Linked DNA regions of Homo sapiens: region 2 is linked to region 1. A link means that fine-mapping ties the variant in region 1 to the expression of a gene that starts in the linked region. Tissue or cell type: whole blood. Region 1 holds a variant in brackets; the other region holds the start of a gene. All regions are shown on one strand. Distances are between the middles of the regions.

Region 1 (8,093 bases):
AACCCGAATCTGGCTGAGCCTCCACCTGTCCCCAGGAAATACAGGGGAGAGAGGAGCAGGTTCAGCACCACACAGAAGCAACCAGCCAATCCAGAACAGGGCCATTCTCTGACAACTGACTGTTTCTTCAACAAATACTCGGCACGCACACAGGTTGGGAGGGAGTGCTGCTGCCGACTTGGGGAGACACAAGAGGTGCCTCAGCCAAGGGCAACATGGGGAGCGGGGCCAGGCAGGCAGGCTCGGTGGGCTCAGGACCCACTAGTTTCACACTGGGCAGCCACAGGACAGCAGGGCCCGTTTCCCATGACTTTGTCAAGAAGGTATTCATTTAGAGAAGAACTGACCCCAGGCCTGGAGTCCTCCTAGCTGCCCTCACCCAACCCGACCACATGTGAGGGGGGCACAGGCCAGCACTGCCAGCATGTCACTGAATGAATGAAGGAATGAATGAAGGAATATATGAAGGGACAAAGGGGGCCCAAGCCCCAAGGCAATAAGAAGACTCCCCTGCAGCGCCAACATTCACACCAAGAAACCAAGACTTCTCGGGAAACTGGTTTAATAAGGACAATTCCAGAGGGGCCTGGCTGTGGCCAAAGCTGTGCCAAACGGTTGGGATCCAGAGCTAAAGGCACTTCTTGCCACGTGAGACCATGGGCGAGGCTCCCCACGCTATCTCCACCACCACAGTCATGAGAGCCAAGCGAGACTGGCCTGTGGCCTGGGGCTCCACAGCTGCCCAGCTCCACCTCCGGCATTTACTGGTCTCATCCTGAGAGGCATTGGGTGCCCACTCACTGGCTGGATGCTGGGCTGGTTCATGGGTGGCAGAGCCAGGGTATACCCTTTGGGGATGTCCCTAACCCCTCAGGACCAGAGGCAGCACCAAGCAGCATGTCACAGCCAGTGCTAGGGTCAGCTGCACCCTTTGCTGGGACTCTAGCTCTCCTCAGAGGGCCTCCTAGGGCCATTCCGGGCACTGTGGGTGGCAATGGGGAGCCCCGGCTCCCTCATTAGGCCAGACACCAGTCTGGCCGGGTCAGGGAGGCCCAGCCTTGGGCCCTGTCACACGTAGTCCAGAATCTCTGTCTCCATTTCGTTTTCACTGCCGTCGGATGGCTTGAAGTCCTCCTCCTCCTCTTCCTCCTCCTCCTCATCCTCCTCGTCTTCCCCAGACTCGTACGTCAGCTGCTCTTTTCCGCCATCAGCCTTGGCTGAGCTGGAAAAGAGAGCTGGGGCCGGAGGAGACAAGGCCATGGGTGTCCCATGCAGGCTGCCGGGTGGCCCCAGAAAGGCCACCAGGCTCTGGGGAGCCTGTTTACTACTATAAGGGTCCGAGCTCGAGCTCTTAAGAAGCTGGTGGGTAAGTATGGGGTGGAGGCCCCCCAGGGAAGCTGTAGTTTGACGGGCACCCAGGGGAATCCTGCAGCAGGGGAGCCATGAGCAGCTTCAAGGGCCCATGGACCCTCAGGAGTGAACACACCATTTTCTCTGGGAAAGGGTCCACACCCTTGATTAGATTCCCAAAGGGGGCTGAATCTGGGTTCCAAGCAAGACCAAGAACCCCTGCTTCGGTCAGATCTGTGGGGCGTGGCTGGGTCCAGGATGCCTCCTCCCCAAGCCTGGGAGGAGTTCCCTGAGAGAGGGGGCCTCTTATAACTCCCCCGAGCCTCGTGAGACCCACAGCCTGGCAGGTGTTGCCCCCTTCACTTTCCCTGCAGCTGGCCCTCACTCCTGCCAGGGCTGCCTGGTTCCAGGAAGGGGCTGGGCCACACAGAACAGGAAGAAGACAGAGGCAGAGCCTGCGCATGCACAGCTGAAAGACATGGGCTGGTGTGAGGGCGTCAGGTGGAGGCCCCGATGGCAGTGCCAGGCTGCTGCACCCAGCCCCTCTGGGCTTGTCTCCTGCCCCGGACCGCAGGGCTGAGGGCCTCGGCTGAGGCAGCCTCTGGGCAGCTGGGGTGATGCCAGCACCTGGGCTGGGCTCTGGCTCACAATGTCCTCCTCCCACCAGGGCCAGGGGCAAGATGATGCCACCTGGGTGCCATTTCCCAGGAATGGGTCCCCTTAGGGACACCTCTGTCTCAAAGGAGATCACCAGGCATCCTGGACCCCCTTTACCCCAAGCGGCTCTTACCAGGCCTCTTGGAGCGGATGGTCTGCCGGATCATGAGGGACATGGTGTCCCTGAGCTCGTCGCTGGTCTTGGGGAGGCACCACCCATCCCGTTCTGTGCAGGAATTCTCTGCCCCGTCATTGCGGTGAATGATCTTCTGCAACCTGGGGGTGGGGAGAGGGTTGGGACATAAAGTCCCAGGGCGGGTCTCTGCTAAGAGATGCCAGTGTTGGTTTTTGCCAGAGGCAGAGCTGTACTGAGATCAAAGGCAGCCCCGTGAGCGAAGTCTACAGAGAGGAACTGGAAACACAAGCTGTGTGTTCCCAGCTGGGGCCCTAAACCTGTGTGCTCCCTGGACCGCCTCACACACATGAAGCTGGCCGTGTTACCACTGCACATGCTTCTGGTGAACCATGGCTTTCAGCAGAGTTCAAGATGTATTTGATGTGTTCCCATCTCCTCTCATCCCAGTGAGTGCCCTTTCCCTGCAATTCTTTAAACATCACTGAGAACAAGTCGATAAAAGGTTTCTGGGATCTGATGGGTCCTGGGATTGAGAACCACCTCATGGGGCCTTTATGTGGACAGTGGAAGAGGAGCAAGGACATAACAGTAAGAACTGTCTCTGCGCAGCTTGGAGCCACGGCTTTCTATAGGGCACCGCCTCTACGAGGGCCACCAGCATGCCAGGGCTCTCGGCAGCACCAAACTCCCAGACAGGCGAGTGCTCTTGCCGGAGATGAAGGCCGACGTGAAGTGGAAGAGTTCAGAGACCGCTTTGGTCCCTGGGTCCCACGGGCCCCCCTCAGTGTCTCAGGGCCCCTCCCATACGTACTCTTCCACATTCAAGTCGCATAACTGGTAGAACATCTGCCGATAGGGTGGCAAGGCCCCTTCCCGGAAGATGTAGACAGAGTCCTGGTGACAAAGGGGGAGAGAGACAGGGAAGGTGAGCCAGAGCCCTGGGGCTGCCAGTGTTGCAGACTCCATGTAGGCTCCCATGGGGTCTCTCCAGGGAGCTGGCTGGTCACCAGGAGCAGGTTGGGCAGACAGGCTGGAAGGCCACGGAGGAGTTGGGGAAAAAACAATGTCCAACTCCCCAGGAGGCTCTGGGAGAGGCAGAGGAGCACCCAGGCCCTCCTGGGGCCACTGGAAACGGTGAGCCCGCCCGTGCAGCAGGCCATGGCGCCCATGGCATGGGGCTGGCACTAGCCTTGTGCCGGGCTCTGCTCTCTGTGCCCTCCTGCACTCTGACCTTATCCCTCACCCACTGCTGCTAATTTGTCACCCTATGTCCCCCTATGGGCTGCCCTGACATCTTTTCTGGGAAAAGCAGGGCTTAGTGAGTGTTTGCTCTCTCCTTTCCGTACCCAGCCATGTAGTTCTAGAGTAAGGATAACGGCCTCCTAGGAGAGGCCTCGAGAAGGAAGGCCGCACAGGCTGTGGCATGATCGCCCCTCACTGGGAAGGCAGCAAAGGTCTAAAAAACCTAGAAAATAGGCAGGGCCCCAGACACTGGGGGACAGCAAGTCCCTCGCATCACCCGTCTCTGCTGCACTCATCTCTGC[C/T]ACCCACTCCCTCAGCAGGTGATTCCACCGTGCGGGATGCCCCCTTCTCGGCCTCCCCCAGGGCTGTGGAGCGGCTTGCGGGAGCCTGAATGTGGGAACAGCTCTGGAAACCGCCAACCCCCGCTGGGCAACCGCACTGACGGAAACGTGAGCCAGTGAGGCTCCTGCCACAGCTGCAGCCCACATGGCCTGCTCTGGCTCTGTCCTCCTGTGTGTGCCCAATTCCGATCATTCCCGGAGTGGTCACGTGGCTCAGTGGGGGCCCAGGCTCCCAAAGGGCTCGAGAAGGACAACCACATGCAGCTGCTGGTGCCAGACTTCCCTGAGACTTGTCACCACCTCTTCGCCAGATGTCCCCAACACACACAGCCCTGGGGCTTTGCACCCGAGTTCTCACCCTCAGTGTCTGAAGGCTGACCTAAAAGGAAGCAAGGTGCCGAGGCCCCGGTGGGCAGAGCTGCCCTAATCACAGCCCCCCAGGTGTCACCCACAAGGTGCCCGGCCCCAAGAGGGAAGTCCTCCCCTCCATTCCTGGCCTCCAGGGGCGCCCACCTTGAGCTTGTACTTGCTGGAAGCTGGTTTCCGAGCACCACTCGTCCCCGACGGGCCCAGGCCCTGCTTCAGGTCATGCATGGTGACAAGCTGGCTGGCTGCGTGGGGACAACAGCAGTGCTTGGAATGTGCAGGGTGGGGAGGAGGTGTCTCTCCCAACCACCATGCCCTGCCCTCCTGCCAGCCCACCCCCTCCTAGGGGAGGAATGACCGGCAGAGCCCTGGAGTGACCCCCAGGAACCACCTCCCCGTCTGGGTCCAGGTGCCCCGCCTTCCTTGGCAAATCACTCATGACCCACAAAAGGCGCCTGGCACGCTTACATGTCTTCTTGACGGTGATGGGGAGGCTGTAGTTGTAGGTGCTGCGCTTTGCTTTGACCGGCAAGTCACTGGGGGCGTAACCTGTAGGCGAGGGCGGGCAAGTCAGGTGGGCGGGCACAGGGCCCGTCGGCACACAACACTGGCTTCACACTGGAGATGGGAGTTGGGTCCATGGGGCCAGCTCCTGAGAGGGCAACCCCAGACTGCCAAGCACGCCACTGCGGTCACCAACACATCTCAGCACTTCCCAGGCAGGGCGGGCACTGATGCTCTCACAAGTGCCTGGCCTGCATCACAGGACCATAGGGCACGTGGAGTCACTTAATGAGGGACTGTGGTTCAGAAACGGGCGGTCAGTGGTGGGGCCAGCACAGAACTAGGACTTTCGTTTCCACGCCATTCTGCATTCAAAAGAGTCTCAGCAACGGGGGCAAAAGGTTTTTTTATTCTTTCCAAATGAAAAGATTCTTACTACAAAAGAGAATGCTAGAAACTGAAAGATAAAGAGAGAGAAAGGCAGGAAGCAAAGCTTTCAGGAATTTTTACCGTGTTTCATTCCACAACGGATTCGGAAATCGAGGACTTGATAAATCTTGGCATCTGGGTTTTTTCGGGGGTCATACCCAAATCGAATCCATAGGCTGCGCCAGGGGCCTGTTATCTGGGACAGAAAAGTGGGGAAAATGTGAGGTGAGGTGAAGGCCCAGGTCCCTGGACGGGCCAGAGCCTACAGTGAGGCAGCAGAAGAGCTCAGGAGCTGGGGACAGGGCTCTGGATGCCCAGCCCTGCTCTGCCACATGCAGGCCCTGTCACCTTGGTGAGGGCACGTGGCCTTTCCAAACCTTGGTCTTCCTGTCAGATGGAGGGAAAAGGAGCACCCTTTCCTGTGGGTTTTTGTTTTTTGGGGGAGAGGGTCTCACTCTGTTGCCCAGGCTGAGTGCAGTGGCAAAATCACGGTTCACTGCAGCCTCAACCTCCTGGGCTCAAGTGATCCTCCTACCTCAGCCTCCCAAGTAGCTGGAACTACAGGCACGAGCCACCACACCCAGCTAATTTTTAATTTTTTTGTAGAGATGGGGTCTCATTATGTTGCCTAGGCTCGTCTCAAACTCCTGGATGCAAGCGATTCTCCCGCTTCAGCCTCCCGAAGTACCGGGATTCTAGGAGTGAGCCATCATGCCTGGCCTCCCATGGTTTTTCAGAGGATTAAATGAGATAGCGCCCGTGGAGCCTTTACCATGGTTCCTGGCACATATTAAGTGCCCAATGTTACTACTGGCCTAATCGATGAGACATCTTCTGTCCCTAAACGGAGCTTTTGAATGGCTTATGTCTAAAAAGCCAATGCCAGCCAGCCGCAGTGGCTCTCGCCTATAATCCCAGCATTTTGGGAGACCGAGACAGGCAGATCACTTGAGGTTAGGAGTTCGAGACCAGCCTGACCAACATGGCGAAACCCCATCTCTACTAAAAATGCAAAAAAAGAAAATTAGCTGGGCATGGTGGCGTGCGCCTGTACTCCCAGCTACTTAGGAGGCTGAGGCAGGAGAATCACTTGAATCCCAGAGGCGGAGGTTGCAGTGAGCAGAGATCACACCACTGCACTCCAGCCTGGGAGACAGAGTGAGACTCCATCTCAAAATAAATAAAATAAATAAAATAAAATAAAATGCCAACGCCAAGCAGCACAGGTCGCTCTCCTGAGCCGGAAGTCCAACAAGGCAGAAGAAATGAGTCTTTCTTGTGTCCTACTGCCTGTTGCAGACCCTCACAGTCATGTCTTACGCTGGCCTCCCCTAATGCTCTGTGAGGCCTGGCAGCGGGGAGGATCCCTTTCCAACCAGCACCTTTGGAACCTCAGTAATGACATGTGTCTTTACATGCTTGTGGATCAAAGGTGGATCTGCCTCCCACTGAACCCCACTCAACACAGGTAGAGGACGACATGGGGCCGCTGTGGTCAGGGGCTGGGTTCTGCAGCCCAACAGGCTGTGGAGGGCGCCCTGGACTCAGGGAGCTGAAACTTTTCTAGCTGGCTTTAATAAGCTGTCTTAGGGATGCTAGGATCGGGGGGCCAGGACAGGGGGGAAGGAAGGATGGGGGTGCCAGGACGGGGGAGGTGCTAGGTTGGGGGCAGGGCAGGAAGGATGAGGGCCAGGCCAGGGGTGGGTAGGAAGGATGGGCCAGGATGGGGGTGGGGCAGGAAGGATGGGGAGCCAGGATAGGGGGTTGGCTGCTCTTACTGTGGCTCTAAGACATCACAGCAGGGACCAGGGACCACATGGGTGGAAACCAAGGCAGGTGGGTGGGCAGCTGACACTTACCATGTAATAGGCTATGAAGGGAAGCAAGACCTTGAGCTTGTCTGGGTGGACGCTGATGTTGGCCTTGACAGCATTTCGGGACCAGATGGGACGGATGTCAAACAGCTGGGGAGGCCAAGGGCAGAGGCTGAGATGAGCACCAGCAGCTTCCACCCTTCGGCCCTGAACTCCCAACATGTTCTGGGCCCCAGCGGCCCCTCCAGAGAGGAGCTGGTAGAGGACAGGGGCTGGACACACAGGGCGTGGCCCTAGGACCTCCTGCTCTCACTAATTCATCCCTTCCCTCAGAAGCCTGGGCTGCATGCCCAGCCTGTGCCAAGTGCAGTTGTGGGGCTGGGTCTCTCAAACGATAAGAGACATGGTCGCTGTCCTCATAGAGCCCACAGCGCGGTGGGGAGTACGGCTCAGGGGGCACATGCTAGAGTCCCAGGGTCCCCATGCTGCCCCAATCTACAGAACAGGTGCCTGAGGTGGGACATCGTCAGGGCTGAAGGGGACAGCCTGGCCCGGGGAGGACTGCAAAGGTCAGTGTGGCCGGAGTGTAGAGGGCCAGGGGGCTGGGGCAGCGGGCCTCACGAGCCAATTCAGGTCAGGAATGTGGGCTGTGCCTGGTGGGCAATAAGGAGCCACTGACAGTGTGCCCCAGTGACTGCTGGAAATCAACAAGACATCCACGTGGTCTCCCACAGGCACACTGCGTAAGGGAAGCGCCGGGCTCCAGGTGGCAGTGGCCTGTGAACCTGATGCTCATGCCAGTGGGGACGCAGGACTCCACGGCACCCGCAAGCCCGGGGAAGGAGGGCTGCCTGGCAGCACGGTTCCAGTTCTAACGGTAAGAAAGTGCTGGGCCTGGCACACTAGGTGCCCCACTGGCTTGGCTGCAATGAGTGAATGGAAGAATAAGAGCTCAGTGGATCCCAGAGCTCCACGTTTATGTCACATCTGAACAACGCACGCATATTTTTCTTAAGAACTCTAAGAAGCATTTTCAACCTTGGGAATGTAGAACTTATACCGACACAGCCTTTAGACATGGCATCTGAAGGTGAGAAGTTCCCATGCACTAAGGAATGGGTAAAGGTCAGTGCAGCCAACCCCACAGCCAGGAACAGGGAGCAGCTGGGTAAACACGGGAAGCCAACAGAGAGGCTGGAGCCACCGGGGCCAGGCGCAGCGCAGGACTTGCCTTCCTCAGCTCCTCCTCCACCT
Region 2 (8,083 bases), 24 kb after region 1:
GGGATGGGCACACTACACGCCAGGTGAAAGGAGTAATGTCCACAGACAGGGAAAAATGGGCTGTCACCCCGGGACCCACCCCTACCAAACTAACCCTAAAAAGGGCTTAATAATCACTTGTCTATTTTTCCTTTTCTTTCCAACATAAGGTCATCTTGTCATCAATGTGACTCAGGCTAACCATCCCTTGACCCTTCAGTTCGACACTTGTTCTTACCCCGTGCAGATACGAACAAGCTCAAAGGCAGCTATCCGATGTAGTTAAGTATCCATGTCCATATCGCAGACAGTCAAACAAGTATAAGTATGGAGCCTTAAAGGGCCCCTGTGGTGACTGGGCAAATGTTTGGTGGACCAGTCAATATGGGAGGCGGACAGCCAACCCCCCTCCTTTAAATAAGTTGCGGAAACTCAAACAAAAACTCTAACTTATCCATCGCTCCACTCCACCAAATTGTAAGCCACTGCGGTGTAACCCCTTATTGCTAATTATAGATAATCCCCAAACAATGGCCCAAGAACCCTCTGTATTCGGACGGTACGGGTTAGGAGCAGATGTTACAGGACGGGATCCCATAGGAACCCTCTCTAAGGTTGACTGGACCATCGGCGGTTAAAAACAATGAAGAAACCCAGACCCAGAGTCCAGGGAACGTATGGGACCCAACGCTCTCCCCAAACATATCAGGCCCAGTGTTCCCCTCCGGTCTCCACAACGACCCAGCCAAAGTAGCAGCTGTAGAAGTAAGAGACCTAAAGCAAACTCTAGCAATTGAAACAGGGTACTGAGATGCAAACGCCTGGATGGAATGGATTAAATATTCTGTCCGCACTTTAAACAAAAGTGATTGTTACACTTGTGCACACAGTAGACCAGAAGCCCAGACTGTCCCCTTTCCACTTGGATGGTCCTCCAGACGAGTGGGCATGGGCTGTACGGTAGCTCTTTTCCAGGACCCCACAGCCTGGGGTGATAAATCGTGCCGAGCTCTCTCTCTGCTGTTCCCTGAGGTTCAACACCCTGCGGGTCAGCCCCTGAGGGCTATCCAGCTTCTGTCTCCCAGTGCCAATTTTACTTTGTGTCTCTTGTGACAGGGAAAATTTGGCATTCCTTGGGGACCTAACAGGATGCAGTGAGCTTAAGCCCTTCCAAGAGCTTACCCATGAATCTGCCCCTAGTCATTTATCCTGAGCAGATGTATGGTGGCATTGTGGTGGACCGTAACTGGATACTCTGCCAAGTAACTGGAGCGGTACCTGTGCTCTGATCCAATTGGCCATCCCTTTCACTCTGGCATTTCATCAACCAGAAGAAGTAAAAACAAGACACCGTAGAGTAAGAGATGCCCCCCGTGGTTCCTTTGACCCTCGTGTTTATACAGATGCCACTGGAGTTCCCCGAGGGGTACCTGATGAATTTAAGGCTTGTAATCAAATAGCTGCGGGATTTGAGTCTATGTTTTTCTGGTGGTTAACTATAAATAAAAATGTAGATTGGATAAGTTACATCTATTACAACCAGCAACAATTTGTTAATTATACTAGGAATGCTATCAAAGGAACAGCTGAACAACTAGGACCCACCAGTCAAATGGCTTGGGAAAATAGAATAGCATTAGAAATGATACTAGCAGAGAGGGGTGGCGTTTGTGTCATGCTTGGAACCCAATGTTGTACTTTTATCCCAAATAATACTGTTCCTGACGGAACCATAACAAAGGCACTGCAAGGTCTTACTGCTTTATCCAATGAGCTAGCTTAAAATTCTGGGATAAACGATCTCTTCACTGATCTAACGGGAAGATTGTTCGGCAGGTGGAAAGGACTTATGTCCTCGATCCTTATGTCCCTTGCCATTGTAATAAACGTGTTTATTCTCGTAGGATGTTGTATCATACCCTGTGCCTGAGGGTTAATACAAAGACTTACGGAGACAGCTCTCACTAACCTCCAATTTCCCCCCGCCTTATTCAGACAAACTTCTACTTTTAGAAAACCAAGAACAGCAAAGTCGAGACATGCTAAAAAGGTTTGAAGAGAAAGAAGTATGAAAATCAAGAGGGGGAAACTGTTCTATACAGTGAATTCTTCTTCAAAGGTTCAGCTTGTTCAACTCCCTTGTTCTTTGTTCTCCATCTTCAAAGTCTAACTTCCTTGTTCTTTGTGCCTCCTTGCCCTTAGTTACCCGCTCTGTTTAACTGCCCTTCCCGCCGAAACTAGTCTTCCCACCGAAATCGCTCGTCCCGTCACTGTAACCCACACCCCTGTTCTATTTAAAATAGCCAATTGAGATTAGCTTAGATTGTGTGGTCCAACTCCAACCAGCAGGGACAGGACACAAAAACAGGGACTGACTGCCTTAGGGATAAAAACCCATTCCAGGCTGGGCACGGTGGCTCACGCCTATAATCCCAGCACTTTGGGAGGCCAAGACGGGTGGATCACCTGAGCTCAGGAGTTCAAGACCAGCCTATAGGACACAGTAAATTCCACTTCAAAGATTTTAGCCTTTTACCTTCCTTTAAATTCAAGAGGGGGAAAATTAATAAATACAATGAGTTATGAGTTCCATTTCAAAGAACCAATATGTCAGTATGTTCAGCTTCCCTGTTCTTTGTTCTCCATTTTAAAGTTTAACCCCTCGTTCTTTACGCCTCCTTGCCCCTAGTTTCAGTAAACAACCCCTTCCTAGCTTCTATCACCTGCTCTGTCCTTAGTCATCCTGAGTCACCTGCTCTGTAACCATCCTTCCCACCAAAACTACTCACCCCGCCACTCAGGCCTGTGCCCCTGCCCTCTTTGAAATAACCAATCGGAATTAGCTTAGACTGTGCGGTCCAACCCTAGCCAATATGGGAAAGACACAGCAGTAGAGACTAGCTGTGTAAGAGATAGGAACCCCTTCCCCTTCCTTGTCGGTGTGCTCTCGCCATTGCTCCATCCGCAAGATGCACCCTTCTATAGAAGGAAATTTGCCTTGCTGAGAAAACTGTTTGCCAGAGTGCTGATTCTTCTTTGCGGCACCCAAAATTTATTTCCAACAAGCCTGACCAACATGGTGAAACCCCCTCTCTACTAAAAAATACAAATTTAGCCGGGCGTGGTGGCATGCGCCTGTAATCCCAGCTACTCTGGAGGCTGAGGCAGGAGAATCGCTTGAACCCTGGAGGCGGAGGTTGCAGTGAGCCAAAATCGCACCACCGCACACCAGCCTGGGAAACAAGAGCGAAACTCCGCCTGAAAAACCAACAAAAAAACAAAAACAAAAACAAAAATCCTTCCCTTCTTTGTTCTGTTGGCTCTCTTGCAGCGGCCAGAAGAGCGAGCAGCACCCTTCTGCGTAAGTAAATTTGCTAAATTTCCCTTGCTGAGAAATCCTTTGAGTGCTCGTTTTCTTTGCGACTCCGAGCTCTTATTCCAACACCGAGATTCCCAGCCCCTTACCCGGGAGACGCCTTCCTCGCCGCCCAGAGTCGGCAGCATCTTAGCCACATCACGCACCACTCCCGGGTACTCCACGCACACCATGCGTCGCTCCCGCCTCAGCTCCACGGGGACGGCGGCCCCCAGCCCCAAATCGGCCGCCTCCGCCGCCATCCCTGTGCGTCTGGCAGGGCCCGCCAGGGTCCGTCCCACAAAGTACTCCCAAAGGCCTCGCCTCAATTGTTCCGCGAAGGAATCGTTCCGGGCTCCCTCACCGCTCGCGTCATCCTAACTCCCCGGGCTCAGCAAGACGCGAGGGCCTCCAGGGAGCAAATGGCCCATGGGAGGGCCCATGTCTTCGGGAAAACGACCGCCGTGTCCTCGACTTTTTATTTAAAATTAAGCGAGTTAGTCCACCGGGCGGGGCAAGCACCAGTCTCTCCTACTAGCCAGCGAGGGACCCGGAGGATAATAAGACACAAACCTCCCTCGACTTCAGCCAATGAGAATCCGAGGGCCGAGCGAGTTTTTTTTTGAGCCAATGAGAAGTCCGGAGGAAGCTAGGTCCCACCTTCTCCTCCAGCTTCGTACGTTTTAACCAATAAAGAACTAGAGTTAACCACGTCCCAGCCCTCTTCTGGGTATTCCACCCAATGACACCTCGGGGGCGGGCCAGAGGCAGACTTCCGGCCCGCCTGCTTGGTGGGGAAAAGGTCCCGGCTGAGAATTGATTTCCGCATTGGGTCGGCCTGGTATTCTGTCGGTGTTGGCGCTTCTTCTCCCAAGCTCTTGCAGCCCCCTCGGGACTAGGTTTCCAACGGCGCTTGCGGGGGGCCTCGCGGAGGTGGATGTGGAAAAGGCGAGCGCGGGGGAACTGTGCTGTAACCATCGCCCCGCCTCCACAGAAAGCCCCGAAGCGCCGGCTCGGGGCCGAACGCGGGCATCCGGCGTTCGTCTGTTAGGCAGGCAGACATTAAGCGCCTACTGTGTGCTGGGCCCTACTCAAGACCCAGGCGGGGAGAACGGCGTCTGTCCGGTAGGCGCCCAGGGCTGCTGCAAAGCCCCGGAGCGAGGAGTGTGGCCCCTCAAACAGGGAGGAGATGAGGTCCGAGGCCGACCGAGGTCAGAGACCCGCACCCACGAAAAGGGTCCACCCGTCGGGCTGGCTGCTTCCCAGTGCCGTGGAGAGCCCCTGAAGGTTTCTTTTTTTGAGAAGGAATCTCGCTGTGTCGCCCAGGCTAGAATGCAGTGGCGCTTTCTCGGCTCACTGCAACCTCCGCCTCGGGTTCAAGCTATTCTCGTGCCTCAGCCTCCCGAATAGCTGGGATTACAGGCGCCTGCCACCATGCCCGGTTAATTTTTGTATTTTTAGTAGAGACGAGGTTTCACCATGTTGGCCAGGCTGGTCTTGAACTCTTGACCTCAAATGATCCGCCTGCTTCGGCCTCCCCAAGTCCTGGGATTACAGGCGTGAGCCACCGCGCCTGGCCCCTTGAAGGGTTTTATGCGGAGCAGTGATCCCATTCATGCATTTGAAAGACCTCTCTGGCTGTTGTGTGGAGAACAGATCAAAGGGGGAGAAAGTGAGTTCAGATAAACCAGCTCCGAGACTGCATAATCCAGTCAAGAGATGAAGGGACTGGGTTTGAGAATATTGGGAGATGAGAATCATGGCCCAGCACAGTGGCTCACGCCTGTAATCCCAGCACTTTGGGAGGCTGAGGCGGGAGGATCAGTTGAGCCCAGCAGTTGGAGGCCAGCCTGGGCAACAGGGGAAGACCCCATTTCTACCAAAAAATACAAAATTAGCCGGCCATGGTGGTGCATGCCACAGTAGTCCCAACTACTCAAAAGGCTGAGGCAGGAGGATCCTTTGAGCCCTGGAGTTGGAGGCTGCAGTGAGCTATGATCATGCCACTTGCATTACAGCTAGAAATTAGTAAGAGCAAGTGACCCCTTGGGTATGGGTACCCCGTTTCTGAAGTGATTTTTTTTTTTGAAAGACACGATCTCCCTCTGTCACCCAGGCTGGAGTGTAGTGGTGTGATCATGGCTCACTGCAGCCCCGAACTCCTGGGCTCAAGTGATCCTCCTGCCTCAGCCTCCTGAGTAGTTGGGACTACAGGCGTGCACCACCATACCCGACTAATTTTGTATTTGTGTGTGTGTGGCGACGGGGTCTCACTATGTTGCCTAAAGTCATTTCTTTTTGTTGTTTGTTTGTTTTGAGACAGAGCCTCACTCTGTCACCAGGCTGGAATGCAGTAGCACAATCTCGGCTCACTGCAACCTCCGACTCCCTGGTATAAGCGATTCTCCTGCCTCAAACTCCCGGGTAGCTGGGATTATAGGCATGCGCCACCACGCCCAGCTAATTTTTGTATTTTTAGTAGAGATGGGGTTTCACCATGTTGGCCAGGATGGTCTCGATCTCCTGACATCATGATCTGCCCACCTCGGCCTCCCAAAATGCTGAGATTACAGGCGTGAGCCACCGTGCCCAGCCTGTGATTTCTTAATCAGAAGAGTACCTGATTGCTCTCCTTGGGTTTAAGAAGGCAGAATAAATAGCTACATGAATTCAGCCCACTGAATACATTCTAAAGTGTAACCTCAATGTGAAATATATTGTATTGTAATTGGAAGGCTGGGTCAGGAGCCCCAAAGCTTTGAAAGAACACCTCCTGAGAGTACAGTGGGAAATCAACCACCAGCAGATGATGGTTGAGCTAGAAGAACCACGTGTTTCCACAGGGAGCTGCACACGAGGACCCGGTGGTCCCTGACCTGCCCTCTCCAGGGGGGACCTGCACTTTCTGCCACCAAAGAGGATTCTCTGTAGGGAGGCCAGGATGATTCTCCAGAATTTACCATGCCTTGAGATGAAATTTCCTTTCAAACTTCCTTGTGTCCTTTTGTCCTCATTCCATGTTCACCAGTCTTCTGACTGTTTCATTTTCCAGAAAGGAGAAACTGAATAACATGTATATTTTAACCTTGCCTGCAATTGTAAATCAATAAATTGGTGTATTTACATCAGATCCCTGTGAGTTTGGTGCACATAAGACAGTCATGAAGACTTGGTCACTGTTGGTAGAGTTGGCCAATAAAATATTGAACACAGTTAAATTTGAATTCATGCAATATTTGGGGCATATTTATACTAAATATGTGTTATCTGAGATTCATATTTAGCTAGGTGATTTTTTAATTTGCTAAATATGGCACTCCCACCTCCGGGTATTGAGATTGAGTTTCTGAATTTGGAAAGCTGATTCCAAACCACCTGGAACCTTAGTGAGCCCACCATGCAATCCAGTGACCCTCTAGTTTGTCTGCTGTATTTTTCCTCCTTACTGAAGCAAGAGTGATCTTTCCAGAATGAGATCGCAGTCTGTCCCTGCCTCCAGTGACTCCCCAGCATCCCTGGCCCACCACCTGGCTAACTACTCCTCTCCTTTAGGTTGTTGCCTTAGACTTCAATTTGCCTGGTAAATCCTCCCTGACCCCAAAACACTAGTTTGGTGCCATCCTCGCTGCCCGGGGCCCCAAACCCACTGCATCATGGAGCCGGAAGCACTATTATTTTTTTTCTTTTTTACTTCTCCACTTGAGTGGCAACTTTCTGAAGACAGGGACCATGTCTGTCTTATTCACCACTGTCTTCCCACTGTCACCACTGCTTTGCATGGGGCTGAGCACCGAGCAGGTGCTCAGGAAGTATTTATTGAACAACTGAATGAGGCCACTTGTCTTATTTGAGCCTTCAATCGAGCCCCGGGTCAGGGCATGGTCATAGGGACACTAAATCAAGGCTTGTCAGACAAGGAGTGTCCCTTAGTGCACAGGAAGTGAGGAGGGGCTGAGTGTGAGGGGAAGACAAGGGACCAACCCCAGGGCATCAGACCAAGCTTTTTGAGATTAGACTTGGTCCTGCCTGAGATCCAAAGCGGGAGGTCAGAGGCAGGAGCAGTAAGGCAAGGCTGGGAGCAGAGACAGGCCAAGAAAGATCAGGAACCCAGTTAAAAAGTAGCTTTGGCTGGGAGCGGTGGCTCATGCCTGTAATCCCAGCACTTTGGGAGGCTAAGGCGGGTGGATCACTTGAGGTCAGGAGTTCGAGACCAGCCTGGCCAACATAGTGAAACCCCATCTCTACTAAAAATACAAAAATTAGCCACATGTGGTAGCACATGCCTGTAATCTCAGCTACTCGGGAGGCTGAGGCAGGAGTCTCGCTTGATCCCAGGAGGCAGAGGTTGCAGTGTGCAGAGATCATGCCACTGCACTCCAGCCTGAGTGACAGAGTGAGACTCCATCTCAAAAAAAAAAAAAAAAAAAAAAAAAGAAGTAGCTTTAACGTTCTCCAAAACCTTGCAGCATTCAGAGCAGGCAGCTGTGACAATATTTGTGCACTGAGGGGACACTTTCTCTGCCTGGATTCAGGGCATATGCTATGGTTTGAAAATGTCCCCCAAATTTCATGTGTTGGAAACTTAATTTGTCTGCCCTCATGAATAAATTAATGTTGGCTCTGCCCTCATGCATGGATTAATGTCGCTGTTGTGGGAGTGAGTTGCTTATCTCTTTGTTATAGAGGCAAGCTCTCTCCGGCTCTCTCTCTCCTGCCCTCTTGCATATGTGCCCTCCACCATGTTATGGC

What was found. PIP is the estimated chance that this variant, and not a neighbour inherited with it, causes the effect.
Region 2: GTF3C5 starts here. The variant in region 1 is fine-mapped to the expression of GTF3C5 in whole blood (TOPMed, PIP above 0.99).

What each region holds. Positions count from the first base shown.
Region 1 is chr9:133,050,956-133,059,048 of GRCh38, reverse strand. GTF3C5 (general transcription factor IIIC subunit 5) reads right to left here. Exons shown (of 11, transcript NM_012087.4): 4 at 8,071-8,093; 5 at 6,885-6,989; 6 at 5,107-5,221; 7 at 4,561-4,641; 8 at 4,240-4,337; 9 at 2,955-3,037; 10 at 2,141-2,283; 11 at 546-1,235. The coding sequence ends at 1,069. It overlaps LOC124902325, which reads left to right. Exons shown (of 2, transcript XM_047424377.1): 2 at 875-968. The coding sequence ends at 968. It overlaps MIR6877 (microRNA 6877), which reads right to left and starts at 7,053; the gene lies at 6,990-7,053. The variant C/T (reference allele first, on the strand shown) is at 3,688.
Region 2 is chr9:133,026,526-133,034,608 of GRCh38, reverse strand. GTF3C5 (general transcription factor IIIC subunit 5) reads right to left here and starts at 3,612. Exons shown (of 11, transcript NM_012087.4): 1 at 3,445-3,612. The coding sequence starts at 3,597. It overlaps LOC105376306 (a long non-coding RNA gene), which reads left to right and starts at 4,187. Exons shown (of 2, transcript NR_135119.1): 1 at 4,187-4,459; 2 at 6,178-6,457. RefSeq lists enhancers at 3,592-3,851, 3,296-3,947, 4,182-4,431.